6 linked regions of the Homo sapiens genome follow. The protein of the gene in region 5 purifies or fractionates together with the protein of the main gene of each other region. This does not show direct contact. Each region holds a gene or a part of one and is shown on either strand. Other genes may lie near its edges. The genes, in order: FAM83D, EXPH5, BORA, NCOA4, PRELID2 and ALMS1.

Region 1 (3,500 bases), on a different chromosome or scaffold from region 5:
CAAAATTAATAGCATCTGGGTCAAAGGGCTGCTGTGAGGATTAAGTGAAACAAAGCATGGAAAGGGCTTAGCACAGGGAGGGCAAGGCAGGAAACAGGTGCTATTATGCAGCCAGCACCTCCTCAGAGCACGCTGTGGGCTGCACACTGCACTAGGCAGAAAGATGGCTATGAGGAATTTGACATAGACCCAACTTACCTCAAGGAGAGGACACAGGATGCAGAGAGGCAAAATGATATATACAGCCTAAGCAATTAAACTAAGGGGGCCGGGCATGATGGCTCATGCCTGTAATCCCAGTGCTTTGGGAGGCCGAGGTGGGTGGATTACCTGAGGTCAGGAGTTTGAGAGCAGCCCGGCCAACACGGTAAAACCCCATCTCTACTAAAAATACAAAAAATTAGATGAACATGGTGGCATGCACCTGTCATCCCAGCTACTAGGAAGGCTGAGGTACAAGAATCACTTGACCCTGGGAGGTGAAGGTTGCAGTGAACCGAGATCGCACCACTGCACTCCAGCCTGGGCAACAGAGCAAGACTCCATCTCAAAAAACAAAACAAAACAAAACAAAACAAAAACAAGGTGTCTCCTCCAGTGGTGGACTATGGGCACTATAGGTACTCAAATGCTTACCAGATAAGAGCAGGGAAGGCTTCCTGGAGGAGATGGCATTTGAGCTGAAGCACAAGGACAAAATTTGGACAAGGGCATGGGAGAAGTGAAGGGAGGAGAAGGCATTCCCGCAGGAAGCCACATGATAACAGAGGAAGAGGTAGGGCATGACGGGGTATGTACCAGTCTGGCTGGAACGTACAGCATGCATGAAAGGGAGCCACGGGACATGACTGGAAAAGACGGATGAATGAGCAAGATCACAGAAGGCCCTGAATGCCAACCAAGGAATCAGTTTCAATCTTCCCCACATTGCCTGTATAAGAGTAATGAGTTCGAAGTGAAGAATCCAACAGGATGGAAGAAACTGATGCCAGAAGAGATTGGTATAGGTCAGAGATCTGGGCCCACCTCCTCCAACACAGGACCTGCAACACAGCAGTCACGTGGATATTCTTTAGGTTAAGCAACTTCAATAAATGTTTAGGAGGACTAGAGACCAGATGAAGACAAATCAGTAGCACGGCAGAAGCAATGAGGGTTGCAGAAGAGGGAAGGAGATCATGGGAGAGCCGAGCAGTGGGCGACATGGGCTGAGGATGACAGGGAGAGGGATATTCAGATACAAGGAAACAGGAAACACAAGACAAGAAGCAAGAGTGAGGGGTGAGCTTCGAAACGGATTTTGAGGTGGCAGTAAAACCTTCAAAAAGAGGTTTGGAATATGCAGGTGTACAAATGAGAGTAGAGCTCACAGGAGAAAGCTAAAGAGGAAAATGCACACACCTGCTTGCCTCTCTGATTTCCCACTCTTCTTTCAAATCTTCATTGTGGACCCAATCGAGGCAGGCAGGTGTTGAGCACTGAGGATCTAGTGTCAATCCCTGTCCTCAAGAACGCAGTCTAATGAGACAGGAGACAAGCCAGGGGTAACAGAGTGTGACGGGCCAAAGGACACGTTCCCTCAGTGCTACTGGAACAGAGATCAGAAAAACCCAGCCCAGCTGCTGGATTAGAGACCTGCTGGAGGCAGGGGCATGGGCCTGGGGGCCCACAGCACAAGGCACGGCCAAGCTGAATTTTGATTCACCACTTAACAAAACAATTGTGCAACACCTTTGTTATATGGTGAGTAAATACCTAATTTGCTATTTGTTCCATTGTTTGGTTTTAAAGCCTCACCCTTTCCTGTGCGTTGGATTTGAACACTAGTCCTTAACACCATCAGGGTGCGTAGGGTTGATGGAGGTTTTTTTCTTCCCCTGACTTCCCCTACACCCAGCATCCACTCCTTTCTTACTAAAGCAGGACTCTTAAAAATATTCGTCTATTTTTTTGTTTCTGGAGATGCAGTTTCACCCTGTCGCCCAGGCTGGAGTGCAGTGGTGTGATCTCGGCTCACTGCAACCTCCGCCTCTGAAGCACAAGCAATCCTCCCACCTCAGCCTTCCAAGTAGCTGGGACTACAGGCACACGCCACCACACCTGGCTAATTTTTGTAGACACAGAATCCCACCATGTTGCCCAGGATGGTCTCCAACTTCTGAGCTTAAGTGATCCACCCACCTTGGCCTCCCAAAGTGCAGAGATTACAGGCATGAGCCACCATGCCCAGCCAAAAGTACTTGTCTTTTACAGAGGAAAAGTCCATAGTCCTACTGTAGAAGCAATCAGTAGGGAAGTCTTCCTTCAAATCCCCATCCCCATCCCCCATTCCTGTGTCCCAGCCCTCATGCAACCAATCCCTGCATAGCTGAAGTAGACCTGGGGCTAGACTGAAGGGACACTCTCTTCACTGAGCTGAGCAATGACCTGGACTCATCCACTAACCGGCCGAGTCCTGCTTTCCAAGCCAGGATGCAACTCCTAGGTATCCGGTGCTCTTGCTGCAGCCTGTGGGTCCAGAAATACACCTGATGTGTATTTGGCCACTGCTCCCACTCCTGGAGGCAATAATGTGCGAAGGACAATGGCATGTCTGGAAGGCAGGCAGCCCTTGCACATCAAGTGCCCACAGTCATGGCACTCTCCCAGTCTGTGCTGCATGGAGCCCACCCACTCTCTAAGGACTAGAAAGTCGTGAGAGTGGTGACTTTCAAGAGTCCCTTCCAGGGTCAACACCCATTTGCAATTTGCAACTCAGTGCAAGTCAGTTACAACAGGAGACGTGAGGAGGACGCATCCAGCTGGTCAGGGGCATAATGGCCGGCCTGCTGACCAGGACCCCACTGTTCCTGCACTTCTCCAGCCATATCTGGAGCAGCTGCATGTGTGTCCACTCTCACATCATCATCTCAGGTAACAAATCACAAGCCTACCTCTCTCAGTCCTTCTACCTGTCCCCTCCTGATTTGTACCAAGGGACTTGGGAACCTATGTAGTTGAACAGCAGACGTCATGATGGCCTTCTTGGTCTCTGGGAAGGTCACAGACCCTGTTTATGTTACTTGCCACATAGAACTGAACTCTTTTCTGCTTGCCTTCTTGCACAAAAGCTCAAAAGTGCTATCTAGAAATTTCAAAACCCCATTACCTGTCATCCCCAATTTATAGATGAGAAAGCCAAAGCTTGGAGAGGTTAGGTAGCTTGTTCAAGGTGACAAACTTAAACAAGTACAAGGGCTGGAATTTCAACCCAGGTCTCTGTGACTCCGGAGCCATCTAAAAAAAGTACTATACTCAGTATTTTATATCATTCCAACCAAGTTTAATGGGCAGTTTTTCACATGACTGGAAGCTTAGAACAAACACTAAAGGATCAGTGGCGTAGCCCATGAAGTGCATGGGCTCAAGCTCACCACGGATGATTGACAGTACCTATCTCATAGTGTTTGCTGGCAGTTCCTGGCATATGGAAAGCCCTTAAATGGCAGCTACTCATATTC
Region 2 (3,500 bases), on a different chromosome or scaffold from region 5:
CCTTAAGAGGGTGGGAAGCTTTGAAACCAGGAAGACATGCCGAAAATATTTAGCAGTCAGCTCAATTGCACTTAAGCATAGCCTTGCTTGTTTTTCACAAAGTAATCCAACAACATAATGAGTCAAGTGAACTGATTTGCACAGTTCTAAACTGGGAACCATCTGGAACTAAGTTTCCACTGCTCCTAAAGCTTCTCCTCCCTCACCTTATACATTCTGAGCAAACACATGGGAACAGCCTTCAGTATTTCTAGTAACAGTAATTACATTTCCTCCCTCTGTTTTAGAATTCTATTTTTCTCTAGTCTCTTTGTTCATCTCACATTTTCTCTCATCTAGTCGTTACCCCAACTCTCCTTATGACCAGGACGTGACCAGGACGTGACCAGGACACATACTCTGCAAAGAAGGAGTAGTTTTTATTTAAATATATCTTCCTGGACAGGACATAGGCCAGACTCTTGGAGCAGTGGAAAAACTGGCAATCATTATTTCCCAATATTTAACCCATCACTCACCAAATGCACCACCAATGCACTCTGCAGCTCGTTAGAAGTTGGATTTCAGGTGAGCCACATTTCATGGTTTCCTAAGAACTTTGTCACTATGCAAGTTAAGTCCCATTTCCTTTGTTCTTAATACCAATTGAATTGAAATTCTAAGAACAAACATTAAACATTTTGAACACAAAACAGGCTGCTGGCCTCTGATATCGGATAACAAATGGGCCGTAACATGACCTGAGTTTAACTCACCCTTTCTGTCCCAGTGATGGAAGCTTTGAAGTCTCCTTTCCAGATTTCCTGAATGAGAACAGGGAAGCAAATGACGATCTGAAGCTCATCCGGGAAGAAAAAGGTGTCGGCTTTTTTTGATTAGTTACATTTTTAGATCTTGATGTAGGTAATTCTATCGGATCTAGAAAAAAAAATTGTAAAAATTTTGCATCAATTACTTCCAAGTAAATATACTTGAAAGAATGAAGCCTTTGCTCTTGTGTCACTTTCTCCCTCTTATGCAGACTAGAAACAGGGCAGGCAACCTCACATGAAGACCTCAGGGATTAAGGCAGTCAGAGCAACCTCTCTCCTGCGCCTCTGATGGTTCTGCTGCATAGAGAAAACTCAAATTAGTAGGGAATCTTTCCATGTGTACTGTGAATCAGAGTTCCTAGAGTGTTCCTCCTCTCACCCAAGCTAGGAAATCAGGGACCCCATTCAATTCTCATGTTCCTTAACCATGCTGTCCTTCAGAAGTTTTTATTTCAGTACCTTAAAACCATGGTGATAGATACATACTACATAACTTCTTATACTGAAGAAAGTAAAGGAAAAGGAAATTAAGCCATTTAGATTTTTCTTCATTCCTTTCCAAAATCTCTCTCTGTGGATATGTATTTGCTACACACATGGTTTACATATGTGTTTGCATGTAACATATACAGGGTGAGCATCCTAAACCCGAAAAACTTGAAATCAAAAATTTCCCCAAAATCCAAAAAAATTTGAGCACCAACATGATGCTTAAAGAAAATGCTCATTGAAGCCTTTCAGATTTGGGATTTTTGGATTTGGGATGCTCAACTTTTCAGCTTATATAATGCAAATATTTCAGGATCTAAAAAGATCTGAAATTGGAAATACTTATAGTCCCAAACATGTCAGATAACGGATATTCAACCTGTTTATGTATAATATATATGTATAGATAATATATGGGTATCAAAAATTCAAAGGCAACATCAACATATACAAAATCCATAATATTGGCCAGGCACGGTAGCTCACGCCTGTAATCCCAGTACTTTGGGAGGCTGAGGTGGGCGGTGCATCACCTGAGATCAAGAGTTCGAGACCAGCCTGGCCAACATGGAGAAACCCCGTCTCTACTAAAAATACAAAAAAATTAGCCAGGTGTGGTGGCGCACGCCTGTAATCCCAGCTACTCAGGAGGCTGAGGCAGGAGAATTGCTTGAACCCGGGAGGTAGAGGTTGCAATGACCTGAGATCATGCCACTACACTGCAGCCTGTGTGACAGAGTGAGACTCCATCTCAAAATAAATAAATAAATAAAATTAAACAAAATCCATAATATTATAATGATTTGGGACATGCTGACTTTATAAATATTAGGGGAATTTAGGACAAGGGAAAAGTCATCAGGGTATGTATGGGGGTGATCTAAAAAATCTGAACTGTGAGTCTTTTTACGTAGATATGTTTATTATGAGAGTTGCAAGATATTATCAACATAGAAGTTTAGAAGTATTTTTACATGTTTCATGATGTTACTAATGTTAATAACATGCAAAAATGCAGTCAATGTGACTCCGCGTCAGTAAAAAGATATTTTATTTTAGTATTTTATAGTTTCTAGTGCACTTTGGTTATCTTCTCAATAGTCCTGTGAAAGCAAGTTTTAGTATCCTTTTAATCTATATAGAAGGCATTTATTAGAAGTCATTCATGGAGTTTACCAAAGTTCCAGAAGTGTGGCAGCTCCTCCACCACCTTCCCTCCCTTCTCCTCTGATCTCTGATTCTCCCTTCCTCCACCCCTCCCCTTTTTCTTCCTCCCCCTGCATCATAGTCATCCCATTTATTTAAGTGCTTACCCTGTTCCAGCTTAATATTCTATTATTTTTTTTTTATTTGAGGTGCAGTCTTACCGCTGTTGCCCAGGCTGGAGTGCAGTGGCATGATCTCAGCTCACTGCAACCTCTGCCTCCCAGGCTCAAATGATCCTCCTGCCTCAGCCTCCAGAGTAGCTGGGGCTACAGGTGGGCACCACTATGTCCAGCTAATCTTTTATTTTTCTGTAGAGATGAGGTTTCGCCATGTTGCCCAGGCTCGTCTCAAACTCCTGAGCTTAAGTGATCCTCCTGCCTCTGCCTCCCAAAGTGCTGGGATTGCAAGTGTGAGCCACCCCCGACCCCCTGCCCAGCTTAATACATTATAAACATAATTTTACTTAATTCTCGTAACCACCTTATGAGGTGTAGGTATCATTGCATTCATTTAAAGATGAAGCAACTGAGGTTTACAGAGAATAAATGACTTGGACAGACTCGCATGAATAGAGACAGAGTAGAGATTTGAATCCAGGCCTCTGTTGACATCAGTGTCTATATTCCTACCCACTATGCTATCTTGCCTGATTCAAAAAAACCCAAAAAACAAAAAAAAATCCAAGACATTATTACAGTAAAATTTCAGTTCACTTTTTTTTTTTAGTGTATATTGTATTATAAACTTTTGTGGCTTATGACTTTAAAATAGTTCTAAACATGGATTGGTTACATTGGAGATCCACTGGGCCATTATCTACAATACTATGCCACAGAAACAAAGAAATCAACTTTAAATCTAAAATCTTTTTCTTACCATTTTTTGCCATCTCCTTACTTAGCCTGTATGTAAGTGGTTGTTTTAACATTTGGCTAACATCTGTTTCATTGCAAAACTTTTTTCTTTGAATTTCTTCAAACCATTCACCAGTCA
Region 3 (3,500 bases), on a different chromosome or scaffold from region 5:
AATTAATAAAGTGGTTAGAAGAGTGCCTGGTATATCAAAACACTATGTGCGTATTAGCTATTATTATAAGTCAGTATTAACTTTTGGATTAAAGAACATGGACTCTAAAGCCAGACTGCTGGGATCAAATCTCAGCTCTTCCACTTACTAGTTGTATAGAAACTTTAGGTAATTTACTTAACCTCTCTGACCCTCAGTTTCCTCATCTGTAAAACAGGGATAACAGTACACATACCTCACAGGATTGCTGTAAAAATTCAACAAAGTAAAACATGTAAAGGTCTCAGAATAGGACTTGGCACATAGTAATGCTACGTTAGTGTTAGATGTTATTGCTATCCCCTTCTGACTAAAGTCAGAACTTCTAAAGAAGTTCCTTCAAAATTCTCAGCTCAAAGAACACAACAATGAATGGAACAAATGCCTTTCCAAAGTGCTAATTATGAAGTATACGTATCTGTTAAATGAATCAGGTTTTCCTGTTGTCAGAGACATTGCAAAATTGGAAATGTATAATTTCATGAAAAATGTTGCTATAAATCATGTTTCTAAAAGAAAAGCACAAAAATGCATACATAAAAGAACTCTAAGGCCAGGCGCGGTGGCTCATGCCTATAATCCCAGCACTTTGGGAGGCTGAGGTGGGCGGATCAACTGAGGTCATGAGTTCGAGACCAGCCTGGCCAACATAGCTAAATCCTATCTCTACAAAAATACAAAAATTAGCCAGGTGTGGTGACGCACACCTGTAGTCCCAGCTACTCAGGAGGCTGAGGCAGGAGAATTGCTTGAACCCAGAAGGTGGAGGTTGCACTGAGCCAAGATCACACCACTGCACTCCAGCCTGGGTGACAGAGTGAGACCCCATCTCAAAAAAAAAACCAGTGCTCTAAACTCTTTTTATCCCCCCTAAATCACATAAAGGAAAAACAAAAATGATTTTATTTTTAGAATGCAAATACTATACCAGACCTTGCATGTTTTGGGGGACTGGATCCACATGAAACAGTGATGAATCCTGCCTGACTCTAGCAGGATTGATTTCTCTAGAGCAGGCTAATTTCTTTTCTGCTCTTACCTTTTCCTACTCCATACAAATATCAGTTAATGTGAATATAAAATATGCCTTATCTGTCATAATTAAAATAAATTTACTCTTCTCATATCACTTGGTATTAATATTTTTAAAAAATATTATATAATACTGTAGTCCTCATGTTTAATCCATTATCTTTCTTATACTATAATCTTAGAAAGGATAAAGAACACCAAGGCAGTGAGGAAGGGGCTATAGAATATTAAATACCTTACCTGAATGTTACTGCTTTCACAAGGAATGACACTGCTTTCAGCAAGAGGTGACATGCACATATGAGAGTTTTCAATACTGAAGGCAATGCCACTTACAAAATCAGTCATGGGTAAACTGCCATTATCAACCGGCTCCTTAATCCAAGTGGTCTCATCTGCTATCTCTATAGGATCAACCATATCCACAGTGTTATTGTCTTTCTCCCTTTCAACATCCTGCAACAGTGCTAATTCTTTCTCAGAAGCACTGGACTGATTTTGTGTAACAGACATGGCAGTCACAACCAAATGTGTACCATGGGTAGAAGCCTCATTACTAAACTGCCGTAGGTGTATTCCAGCAGCATCCATGGCGGGTGATGAGACATCTGTGGAAGGAATATTCTCTTTATCTTCCTCATCTTCACCTTGAGTCTCAAGAGTAAAAGGTATCTGAATCACTGAGGTCCGATACTGAGTACCACCACTATACATCTGAAGTCTCATAGGAGACCAATTTTTAATTGGCGAGCAGCCATCTATATAAGGACTTCTGATACACGGATTAGTTATCCCATTAGAATTTGTTCCAGATGAAGCATCAGGAGAATGAACAGTAAACTTCCTTTGTTCTGAAAGGTGGGAAGGGAAAAAAAATCACATCATAAAAACATGAAAATGGAAAAGTCACTACTAAATGGTAATCATGTTTCATGCCAGGAAAAACTGCATTTCTGTAACAGTTGTGTTGTTTACCAAAGTGAAATTGTGATGTCAAAAACAATAGCACAAATGGAAATTGCTAAATTTCCTTTGATAGTGTTTGATGTAAATATTGCTAATTAAAGTAACTATATTTAACACTACAGTACAAACTGGTGAGAATTCCAGCCTTTGAAGGTAAACTGTTCTTTTATTTAAAAATCAAAGTTCCTAAATGTTAGAAGGTTAGTGATCATTTTGAGCTCTATCATTAAGACAAATTAAAAGAACCTCTCTAATAACAAATATTGATAGTATAAAACTTTTAACTAGGTATTTTATTATGAGACATACCTGAGAGTGGAGTCTCTCCTATCTGAAATTCAATTGGTGAGAAAGTGGGTGAAGAAATAGGCGAAGGACTAGTTATGCTTCCCAAGCTGTATTTTTTTGCACTAGCCTGAATAGGGCTAGAAGAAAACTGCCCCTGTAATAAAATTAAATAGTAAATAAATGTATATGGTTCTCTTCCTTAACTCTTATGCTGCATGCTATTTATCATGGTCTTCAAAACACACTTATAAACTAGTAATAGTTCACGAGAACCACCAAAAGACACCTTGCAACAAAGACAACTAAGAAGATTGCTACAAAAATTCTGAAATAGTATCAAATATGTTAGTCAAAATATAAACACATTGTATTTGAACAAACCATTAAGTTTCACACTAAGCAACCATCTGTGAAAAATTTTTAAATTTATTAATGCCAAGCCAGTTGTATTATACTGTAAATCTCACACACTTTAGTAAATAACCTATGCTGAATTTCCTTGAGACTCATGATAAATCTGGTCATCCTGTACATATCTAAATACAAAATTGAAGAGTCTGACCTAAAACATCCCTATGACTAATGATAACATACGAACTAGAGTTAGTTTCTGTGAAGCATAATACTCAAAAGACAACCATCCCTCCTTCTGAAAGCAATCTGGGCAGCTCACAGGGGTGTCCAAGGGAGAGAATACAGTCATGAGTTCTTAGTTTCTGTTTCTGGTTAGGCCAGTAAAGGCCCTTCCTCATCCCTCTTTTCCACTTATTTACTAGAGACAGAAAGCAACCATGGCTTCAGGCTGCTGAAAGCCTAAGATAGAACAACAACAAAATGTGGGTTCAAGCTTGACAGCATATTAGCCAACTGCTTTTTAGTATACTTCTCACCGAACTTGGTGTCTGCAAGGGGCTCCTACACTTTACAGGAGACAAATCTATTGAATAAAACATCTCTAGTGATGTTTGAACACCACTGTGAGGACTTCCGGGAGAAGCCGAAGGTAAGGAGTCGGAGATGCTTCCGTTCCCATCTAAAAACAGCTTTCTTCTGAGGGATGAAGAACTGAGGTTTCCAGGAGATTGATCTGCAAATTCATCAGCTCTAAAATAGTCACCTATATTTAATAATAGGAGAAAAGGCAAAGCTAGTCATTTTAAAGGGCAATTATACTT
Region 4 (3,500 bases), on a different chromosome or scaffold from region 5:
GAAGGCCATGGCATTTTTTATTACTCTTCTTGCTACTTTTTAGTCCTTTTAAAATTTTCATCCAAGGTTTTCATCTTGACTTTGTTTTCATACAGTTATGTCTGGACACATTGCTTCAACATAGAACGCACATGAACAATGTGGAGGTCTAGGCTGGAATGGGGGCCCAGTTGACCACTTTTGCTCTAGCTGGTAGGCATTAATACTATCTCCATGCATGTCAGTTAGAGGAGCTGCCATATTGTCCTTAGCTTATCTTCTTTGATTGTTAAATCATAACATTGCAATGCTTAACTTCTGATATGAATGACTACAGTCTTAAGTCTTAATCATTCTTTTTTTTTTTTTTTTTTTTGAGACGGAGTCTTGCTCTGTCAGGAGGCTGGAGTGCAGTGGGCGATCTCCGCTCATTGCAAGCTCCGCCTTCCGGGTTCACGCCATTCTTCTGCCTCAGCCTCCCGAGTAGCTGGGACTACAGGCACCCGCCACAACGCCCAGCTAATTTTTTGTGTTTTTTAGTAGAGATGGGGTTTCACCGTGTTAGCCAGGATGGTCTTGATCTCCTGACCTGACCTCGTGATCCGCCCGCCTCGGCCTTCCAAAGTTTTGGGATTACAGGCGTGAGCCACCGCGCCCGGACCACTCTTAGTCATTCTTATCCCAAGTTGTCATCCCTAATTTTGCTTGGCTTGATTAATCAAGATGTTCCTCTTTGGGGTTAGCAGTGTGTTTGGGGGCACCTTTGGGGCTTAATATTCCTCTTATGCAGCATTACCTAAGTGCTCTACAAATATGGCAGTTTGGTTCAGTGAAGTAGTGAGTAGCTCACAAAATAGGTTAAAAGGTTTTGTTGTCAGTTTGGTCATGGGTGAGAAGTTAAGTCTTTTAATACTGAGACAATTTCAGCTTTCAAAAGAAGATAATCTCAGGTGTGTTTTGAGCTTTATTTTGGCATTATTGTTAGTCCTCTAGGCTTTAAAGGAGGGAAAATATTAATATTTTATCACTTGTTGGCTTCTATGGGGAGAACCACAAAGTGTTTGCCATATAAAATCAGGATAAAATGGCATTATTACTGTGATAGTAGGTAAGTTAACATATTTTCCTATCCTTGACTCTATTATGGCAAGAAGTTTCAAGTTGAATATAGTCCCCCCAATATTCAACTTGAAATTCAGTTAGAATTTCTGTGGTACTGCCAACTCTGAAGAAAAAATCCAGAGTTGGCTGTAAAATACAGTAAATGTGTCCCCTTTAACCCACAATCTTGCTGCTATTTGTGTGAATCCATGAAGCTGAGCTTTGTGGTTCTGGCAGCAGGAAAGACACTATCTCAGCACTTATTCTGGGATCATACTTTCAGTGGCAACACCCTTGCCAGCTTTGTCTTGTTTGAAAAAAGCCAAAAGTAATAGTTGTGCTAGAAACATTTTCTTTCTCTGAAAAAACCTTCCTGCATTAATACAGGCCTTAGTGGGACATCAAGTTGATTATCTATGTTTAAAGCAGAACTATACCATACTTACTGTGGCTAGTCTGAACCTAAACATTAATTTATCATATATTCATCCGTTTGTCCAAAATGTCTTAGGCCTCTGTTGAATTTAGGGTGAAGCATTGTACAATTGCCAGGGACATTTTCTCTTTATGTCGATTCAGTGGCACACATAGAATGTGAACGGTTGGTAATGACAAGGTACTGATACCAGGTTGTCTGCTTAGTATTAGGATGTACAAAGCTATTAATTCATAAATAAGACATGGTTTCTTCTCTCATGGAGCCCTCAGGCTAAGGAGGCAGGCATGTAACAATAGGGTAACATATGTTACAGGCGTCCTGCCGGAAACCCATACAGATTACAGTGGTAATGCAGGAGGGAGCAGCCAACTCTATTGGCCAAAAGTATTGAGGAGTGAGGTGCTCAGTCAGGAAAGGCTTTGTAGTTAGTGATGGTGACTTGAAAAGCAGATAGGTAGGGAGAAGAGGAGAGACTGGCATTGCTGACAGAACTGGCATAGCCAAGCTGCACAAGATAAACCAAACTATCCTATGCATAGAAAAGCTGTCCAGTAGATTAGGGTGTGGGAGCTGTTCTGGGAGACAGCAGGAGAGTCAGAGTGAGGCCAGGAAATAGACAGCTGTGATGGTTAATTTTAGGTGTCAACTTGACTGGATTAAGGACATCTAGAAACCTGGTAAAATGTTATTTTGGGGTGTGTCTGTTTCCAGAGGATATTGGGGTGTGAATCCAAGTGGATTAGGTGGGGAAAATCCACCCTCAGTGTGTGTGGGCACCATCCAATCTGCTGGGGCCCAGAGAGAACAAAAACATTGAAAAGGCAGATCTATTTGCTGGAGCTGGGATACATTCTTCCTCTCCTGTCTTTGGACAACAGAACTCCAGGCTCCCCAGGCTTTGGGCTTCAGGACTTGTATCATTGGCCCCCTGGGTTCTCAGGCCTTTGGCTTCAGACTGAGAGTTACACCATCTGCTTTCCTGGTTCTGAGGCCTTTGCACTTGGACTGAGCCATGGTACTGGCATCCCAGGGTCTCCAGCTTGCAGACAGCCTGTCATGGGATGTCTCAGCCTGCTAATCACATGAGCCAGTTCCCCTAATAAATCCCCTCTCATATCTATATCTGTATATATCTTTATGTCTATATCTATGTCTGTCTATATAATGTTCCATCTCTCTGGAGAACCCTAACTCAGGAGCCTTATTGCCTTTAAAAGAAATTTGGACTTTATCCTGTAGGCAAATGGGGAGCCATAGGAGAGCTACGCTGCTTTAGATGAGATGATCTACTTGGGATGGTTGGTTGTTGTTTTGAGACAGCATAGAAATTCTTGAAGCAGAAGAGAGGTAAAATACCTTATGCATTTTTCCCCTTTAGAACCTAAACATTTTATAAAGACACAAGGGCAAATACTGAAGCATAAGGGAGTAAAAAGCTACATGTAAAGTGGTCTGAGTGCAGAATTTTAGATTTTTGTGATTTTCTTTCTCCTTAGTCTTTTTATGTTTATGTAATATTTAATAAATCACATCATTATAGTAACAGCTACAGCTGGCTTGAGGAGAGAAACACAAATGAATATAACTGTGAAACTCAGTGAACATATACATAGGGGAGTAGCTGAAGACTTTACTGTGCTGGGGCGTTGGTCAGGATCTTTTAGAGAGAGAACAGAGACCGTTGGTTAAGTAGGTGACGGCCAACAAAGTTTCTTTGTATTTACATTGTGATCAGCCATTTTTCAGAGGCACATAAAATAGATGAAAGTTCCTGACATGAGTTATATTTTAATAGAATTCCTTCTTTGTTGCCATTGATGTAAATTAGTACAAAGGACCATAAAATTGTAACTTTAGTCATTCAGAAGTATGTCTGTTTTTTTTGTGTCTTTACGAAATGTATTATCCAAGGAGGGCTTTTGGAATTAGGGAGAAATTTTCTTATTTTTGATAATGAATGCCTGGATTGGGGTCCCAGAAA
Region 5 (3,500 bases):
AACCTAAAAACAAGATTATTTTCCCGTTTGACAGATGAAGAAACTGAGGCTCCAAAAAGTTGGGTCACCAAGGTAGTAATGAAATCAAGATTTGAAATCCAGTTTGTCTGATGACAAATAATAAGTTTCTCTCACACTGCAGGTACATGAGAAAATATTTTTAATATATCTATATGGTTATAGAATTACAGAAAATGCATATACAAGCAAAAGGCAGTTATGTTTACCAAGCACAGAGAGGGCTTCAGAGTCACACACAATGAACAGTAGCATCTCATGATTCCTAAGAAGGGTAAAGAGCATGCTGGACCTAGGCCCCAGTGTCCCCAAAGCTTTGTACATTGACTATGTGCATTGTCACAGCTTCCTGCATTGCCCAGTTCTCAAGTTTAAACACTGACACTAATAATGGTTTTTGCTGGAGATGGGGATAACACAGAACAGAAGAGATTCCTATGCTCTAGACCAGGAATCAGTAAACATTTTCTGCAAAGAATCAGGTGCTAAATAATTTAAGTTTTGTGGGCAATAAAGTCTCTGTGGCAACTGGTCAACTCTGCTGTTGTAGTGAGGAAGCAGTCGTAGATGACATGTAAACAAATGTGACTATGTTCCAGTCAAACTTTATTTACTAAAACAGGCAGCACAAGCCATAGCTTGTCAACTCCTGATTTAGTCAATGCTAAACCACACTGCCTAGTAGTTGTGATTCCATAAGCCATCACTTTATAGTCATATCTCGTATTTAATCATATGCATTTTGCCATCTACAAAATGATATAATAGGCTACAGCCATGTGACCTTGAGCAAGTCACTTAACTTCTCTGTATCCCAGTTTCTCCATTCATTAAATGAGTAGTCTAACACCTATTCCAAACATTGTTCTGAATATTAAATGAATTAATAAGAGTACCTGCCACATATTAAGTGCTCAAAAATGTTAGCAGTTACAATTATATATAGCTCAGTGTTGTCATCAATTATTAGTTAGAAAGTGACAAAAAGCATCAGCAGGCCTTTTACTATCACAAATCCTGGTGCTCTACCTGCCACACCTTTCTAAGTCACCTCAAGTACAGAAATATACCTGTTTAAAAACTAATAATGGAAGAAACTGCAGGTGAACAATTTTTTAAAAAAAACCTAATAGGCCACACACACACGTACACACATCTTTACAAAAATCACTATCATTTAATGATCATTACTGAAAAAACTGTACAGAGAACTTACCTCTTTTTTCCTCCATGATTTTTACTGAGATGACATTTTTATCCATGGGGTTGGGGTACTAAACAAAAATATATAAAAAAGAATTACCATTAATCTTCTACCAAGGTGAACTATTTAGAAGTAACCACAGCTGTCTGCAGGACTAGTAAATATTTTCCAAGAAACTTCTAAACAAAGCCCAGTTTTGAATCATGGATCTTAATTTTATAACTTGGGCCTAGATAAGTGAGATGCTATCATCATCTTGACTTACATGAAATCTGGGGAAAACCTTCTTTAGATCCAACTAGCCCTGAGGGGGATGAGGTTAAGCTAATCAGTAAATAATAATACTATTAATATTGAACCAGCCTAACATAAATCAAGAGTGTTCTTTGTGCTAGGCACTGTACTAAATGCTTTCCTTGCACAATCTTGTCTAAATCCAACAGCCTCTCTGTTATAACTGATTTATGTGATACCACCATCCCCATCTTTCAGATACGGAAACTGAATGAAGACTGGATTGCTTAGGGTCACCCAGCTGGCTCCTGGTGGAGCCAGGGAATTAAACCAGGCCTGTTTAATACAGAGTGGACCTCTTCACTGTGGTCTAATATCATTGTCTGGTGGCTGGGTTAGCATCACAGTAGCATAGTCATAGAAGTATGCTTTGCTAGGCACATAGTAAATACTCAATAAATATTTAACATGTTAATTTAATTCCCCTGAAAAGCAATTTGGCTGTGACAAGGTTGATAATAGCCACTGCTTTTGTCGTAGGCAATTTAAATACTTTAGATACATTAGCTCAGTTAATTCACAAAACCATTCTATAAGGTATGTGTTATTTTTTCCACTTCATATATGAAAAATAAGGCTTAGACAAATTAGATAATTTGCTCAAATTGTCCAGCTAATGAATAGTGTATCTGGGGGGTAACATAATTTACCCCCGATACTTTCTGCCAGCCTGCAAAGCCTGCCCACCTAACCTACCACCAAATCACCTAAGAGTTAAATTAACACAATCCTTTCCACTACTCAGATGTGAAAAGAGAGACACTGGGAGCAGAAGTGACCTCCTAGAAGCCACAGGACAAGGTAGCTGCTGACCAAAGCCTACTGAGCCCCCTTGGACTCTCTTCCCTGAGGTTTACCGACGTATCATGTGATCAAATCTGAAAAGAAAATTGGCAGGAAGTCTTATCCATGACATCACAAAGTGCTGAGCAGAAGGCAAAAGCAGCAGGCAGGCTGAGGGGAGAAAGAAGAAAGGCCCCTCACTTTGCAAACTTGAGCTTTAAGTTTTCCGAACCCTAGGAAGTGAAATACAAAACTCTGACTGTGGGTCTCCACCCACAGCAGGCGTGTGTGTGTGTGTGTGTGTGTGTGTGTGTGTGTGTGTGATATTGATTTATTAATGGATTTTTCAGGGAAAGGGGTTCATCATTTTAACACATTCTTAAAGATATCTGTGACCCAAAAAGACACTAGATTAGAACACAGGCTCTCTGAGGGCAGGAATACTGTCTATTTCAGTTACTCCTGTATCTCCAACAGCCAGCGTAATGCCTGGCACATAAAAAGCACTCAGTCAATATTTTCTGGATAAATAAAAAATTGGGAATATAAACCTCAATGACCTCAGGGATCAATTTGGAAAATGAGCCTGCCTTCAGTCAGAAACCAATCTATGAAGAGAGCAGTGGCTCAGCTTTCAGCAACCTCAATATCTCTTCATGTTTCATGTTGGTAAACTCTGTCATTCACACTTCCATCCTGGAAACTGAAATCTTGATAACTGATGAAAAACTTGGTTTTTAAAAATCTATTTATTTATATATTCATTCATTCACTCATTTTAGCCCTAGAAAAAAAAATGCTTGGCTGGGCATGGAGGTTCATGCCTGTAATCCCAGCACTTTGGGAGGCTGAGGCGGGTGGATCACTTGAGGTTAGGAGTTTGAGACCAGCCTGCCCAAAATAGTGAAACCCTGTCTCTACTAAAAATACAAAAATTAGCCAGATGTGGTGGTGCATGCCTGTAGTCCCAGCTACTCAGGATGCTGAGGCAGGAGAATTGCTTGAACCTGGGAGGCGGAGGTTGCAGTGAGCCGAGATCATGCCACTGCACTCCAGCCTCGGTGATAGAGTGAGACTCTGTCTCAAAAAAAAAAAAAAAAAAAAAAAAAAAAAAAAAAACTTGGAACTACAGTGATTGCTTTCTTGAAGTTCAGCCCTTCCGAGTTACATGCCCATGACAGAGGGTCAGGTTTAGATACTC
Region 6 (3,500 bases), on a different chromosome or scaffold from region 5:
TCTTTGGGAGGCATTTACTACCCGTCAAGAACCACTGCCTTCCACAATCTAGTCTTCTCCCTTTCACTCTCACTCTCCAAACACACTGGCCTCCTCCCTTTCCTTTAACACTCCCTTTCCTTTCACACACTTTACCTCAGCAACTGTGTGCATGCTATTTCTGTCTGGAATGCTCTTGTCACTGTTAACTGCCTTACTTTCTCACCTTACTCAGATATTTAATTCAATACCTCTTTCTCAGGTTCTGTGTTGACCATTCTGCTTTGTCTCCCTGGCTCTTATCCCACCATCTGACATTTATTTTACTTGTTTGGTTGTTATTCATATACTCTTCCTTAATGTAAGCTCATGATGAAGAAATGTTTGTCTATTTTGTTCAGTGGTGTGTCCTCAGGCTATAGATGAGGATGGCGCATATCAGGCATTCAATATGTATTTTTGGAATGAATGAATAAATGTCCAACAGTAGGGTAGTGAATAAATTGTTATGTTCATACAATGGGATATTACATACCTGTGAAATTATGCTTTTAGAGAAGTTTTAAAGGGAAATCCTAATATATTTAAGTTAAAAAAATAAAAGGTCCAAAACCGTACACAGTGTGGCCAATATGGGTTCCCTAAGGACAAGGCATATCTAGACAAACACTATTTCGCAACTACTCAGTTAATAGACTGAAAAAAGTCAATCATAAGATGGTGAAACACAAGATGGTTGAATGACAGTATAGTGAAGTACTCAAAATAGGTGTGAGAGTAATCTTATTCAAAAGTTTTAGACCTTTTTTTTTTTTTTTTTTTTGAGACAAAGTCTCCCTCTGTCGCCTAGGCTGGAGTGCACTGGCACAATCTTCGGCTCACTACAATCTCCACCTCCCAGGTTCAAGCAATTCTCCTGCCTCAGCTTCCCGAGTAGCTAGGATTACAGGCATGCACCATGACACCCAGGTAATTTTTGTATTTTTAGTAGAGACGGGGTTTCACCACGTCGGCCAGGCTGGTCTCGAACTCCTGACCTCAAGTGATCCACCCACCTTGGCTTCCCAAAGTGCTAGGATTACAGGCATGAGCCACCGCGCCCAGCCAAAAGTTTTAGACTTTTTATCCATAGCCCTTAGTAAACATTTTTATTGCTAATTTGGATAAAAATACTTATCAAATATATAAATGGCACAAAGCTGAAAGGGATATTTTAATAAAATAAATGATCAAATTTGATTAAAAATCATTCCAATAGGCTTGAACACTGATATAAAAGCAATAAAAAGAAATACAGGAGAGTTAAAAAGTATTACATAGGGCGAGGCGTAATGGCCTGTAATCCCAGCATTTTGGGAGGCCGAGGCAGGCGGATCACTTGAGGTCAGGAGTTCAAGACCAGCCTGGCCAACATAGTGAAACCCCATCTCTACTAAAAATACAAAGATCAGCTGGATGTGGTGTCATGCGCCACTCACACAGCTGTAATCCCAGCTACCCGGGAGGCTGAGGCAGGAGAATCACTTGAACCTGGGATGTAGAAGTTGCAGTGAGCCAAGATCATGCCACTGCAGTCCAGCCTGGGCAATAAAGTGAGACTCTGTCTCAAAAATAAGAAGATTTTTAAAAAAGTATTATATAGATACAAGAAATGAGAATAGGAATCTTGGCAGCAGTTCATGGTTTTTGTTTGGTTTGTTTTGCTTTGCTTTTTTCCTACAGCTTTAAGTTTTGAAAGCAGTACATGGTTTTTTTTAATGCCCAATTATGCTGTGACCATTAAAGATCTCACAGTACATTGACAGAAAGAGAATTACTGAATATACTTCATGCTGGTCAGATCAGAAGTGAAATTGTGTTTCATCTAATTCAGGACACCTTATTTTAAGAAAAACACAGACAAACCAGAGTCTACCCAAAGGAAGGCAACTTGCTTGCTGAGGGATCTGGAAATATGAACGCAAGAAAATAATTTTTAAAAATAGGGAAACACAGATCACTGAGAAAACTATGTAATTTTAAACAAATGATGCTAGGATAGTGCTCACTTTGGCAGCATATATACAAATGGTGCTAAGACAACCAATTGCCCATTTTATTATTCTTATTATTTTGTCAATTTTGTTTTTCACAAGCATATACGTAAAACCTAAAATCCAATCTAATTTGTACTTTTCAAACTTTTCCAAAATTGAGATAATCCAAATAAACTATATCACTGGAGAATAGTTTTCTAAGAAACTTTGTATGAATCAGGCCATGAAATCCTTGCATGATAGCTATATCAATTCTTTCAGGATTAATAATAGTAATAATAGCTGCCAGTTACTGAGTACTAACTAGACATCACACGTTCTACTAAGCATTTTATAGGCATTATCTCACATAATCCACACCAAAACCCTCTACGATAGGCATTATTATACCCTATTACTATGCAAAATAGCAGACAAAATGCCTTATCCACAGGAGAAAGAATAAATTATCATGTAATCACACACTGGAATACTGTACAGTAATAAGGAACAAATGAAAACTCTGCACATCTACATAGAAGCAGCTCAAAACCCTAACACTGTGTGAAACACCTAGTTCTCAAAAGAATATGTATCATATTGATTCCATCTTAGAGTTCAAAACCATACTGAAGAGAAGGAAAATCATTATATATCAAAATAAGAAATAAAAAAGATATGACTGGGAAAGGAGAAACAAAGAACTTCAACAGTATTTGGTAATGTTCTATTTCTCAAGCTCGATAGTAAATATATGGGAATTATTTTTACTTGCTGCTATTCTTTACATAAATGATTCATATATGCTCTTTTCTACATATGAAATAGTTAATAGAAGGAAAATATGTACTATTAAAATGAAAGCCATTTATACATAAGCTATTATAGCTGTGTACTCAAGTATTTAAAATAAACATTTGAAAATAGCTGGATTTCAAGATACCACTTTCAAGAGAAAATAAGGGTGACATTTAGTCTTCTCTGTTCTTAAAAAAAAAATTGATAAAACAAGCAAATCAGTTCTTATTTTTCTAAGAAGATAAATTTTTCAAAATATGAATTTGGAATCAATAAAAACAACATATCTAGACTGTAAGAATCTAATACTTATATCTTAACTTTTGAAAAATTAAGATGCCTGCCTAGGCACAGTGGCTCATGCCTGTAATCCCAGCATTTTGGGAGGCCAAGGCAAGAGGATCGCTTGAATCCAAGCGTTCAAGACCAGCCTGGGCAACGTAGAGACCCTGTCTCTGCCAAAAATTTAAAAATTAGCCGAGCAGGGCGGTACACACATGTGGTCCCAGCTACCTGAGAGGCTGAGGTGGGAGGATTCCTTGAGTCTAAGAGTTCAGGGCTGCAGTGACCTGTGATTGCACTGCTGCACTTCAGCCTGGGCAACAGAGCAAGACTGTCTCAAAAACAAAACCAAAAAAGGCTTTAGCCAAATATTATCAGCAACTCAACTGATGCCCAAGTAAGAGATCCTAATTCCATCACCCATTC

Evidence for each region.
Region 1: the proteins of PRELID2 (region 5) and FAM83D purify together in Homo sapiens (affinity purification with mass spectrometry; one large-scale study listed by BioGRID and IntAct). This does not show direct contact.
Region 2: the proteins of PRELID2 (region 5) and EXPH5 purify together in Homo sapiens (affinity purification with mass spectrometry; one large-scale study listed by BioGRID and IntAct). This does not show direct contact.
Region 3: the proteins of PRELID2 (region 5) and BORA purify together in Homo sapiens (affinity purification with mass spectrometry; one large-scale study listed by BioGRID and IntAct). This does not show direct contact.
Region 4: the proteins of PRELID2 (region 5) and NCOA4 purify together in Homo sapiens (affinity purification with mass spectrometry; one large-scale study listed by BioGRID and IntAct). This does not show direct contact.
Region 6: the proteins of PRELID2 (region 5) and ALMS1 purify together in Homo sapiens (affinity purification with mass spectrometry; one large-scale study listed by BioGRID and IntAct). This does not show direct contact.

What each region holds. Positions count from the first base shown.
Region 1 is NC_000020.11:38,936,417-38,939,916, reverse strand, and holds part of FAM83D (protein FAM83D), read right to left. Parts: intron 1-3,500.
Region 2 is NC_000011.10:108,538,269-108,541,768, forward strand, and holds part of EXPH5 (exophilin-5), read right to left. Parts: coding exon 3,384-3,500; intron 919-3,383; coding exon 756-918; intron 1-755. UniProt on the Homo sapiens protein: May act as Rab effector protein and play a role in vesicle trafficking.
Region 3 is NC_000013.11:72,744,923-72,748,422, reverse strand, and holds part of BORA (protein aurora borealis), read right to left. Parts: intron 3,443-3,500; coding exon 3,216-3,442; intron 2,480-3,215; coding exon 2,347-2,479; intron 1,923-2,346; coding exon 1,312-1,922; intron 1-1,311. UniProt on the Homo sapiens protein: Required for the activation of AURKA at the onset of mitosis.
Region 4 is NC_000010.11:46,024,124-46,027,623, reverse strand, and holds part of NCOA4 (nuclear receptor coactivator 4), read left to right. Parts: intron 1-95; exon of another isoform or gene 96-158; coding exon of another isoform or gene 159-192; intron 193-3,500. UniProt on the Homo sapiens protein: Cargo receptor for the autophagic turnover of the iron-binding ferritin complex, playing a central role in iron homeostasis. Acts as an adapter for delivery of ferritin to lysosomes and autophagic degradation of ferritin, a process named ferritinophagy.
Region 5 is NC_000005.10:145,821,843-145,825,342, forward strand, and holds part of PRELID2 (PRELI domain-containing protein 2), read right to left. Parts: intron 1,293-3,500; coding exon 1,235-1,292; intron 1-1,234.
Region 6 is NC_000002.12:73,455,336-73,458,835, reverse strand, and holds part of ALMS1 (centrosome-associated protein ALMS1), read right to left. Parts: intron 1,734-3,500; exon of another isoform or gene 1,510-1,733; intron 896-1,509; exon of another isoform or gene 1-895. UniProt on the Homo sapiens protein: Involved in PCM1-dependent intracellular transport. Required, directly or indirectly, for the localization of NCAPD2 to the proximal ends of centrioles.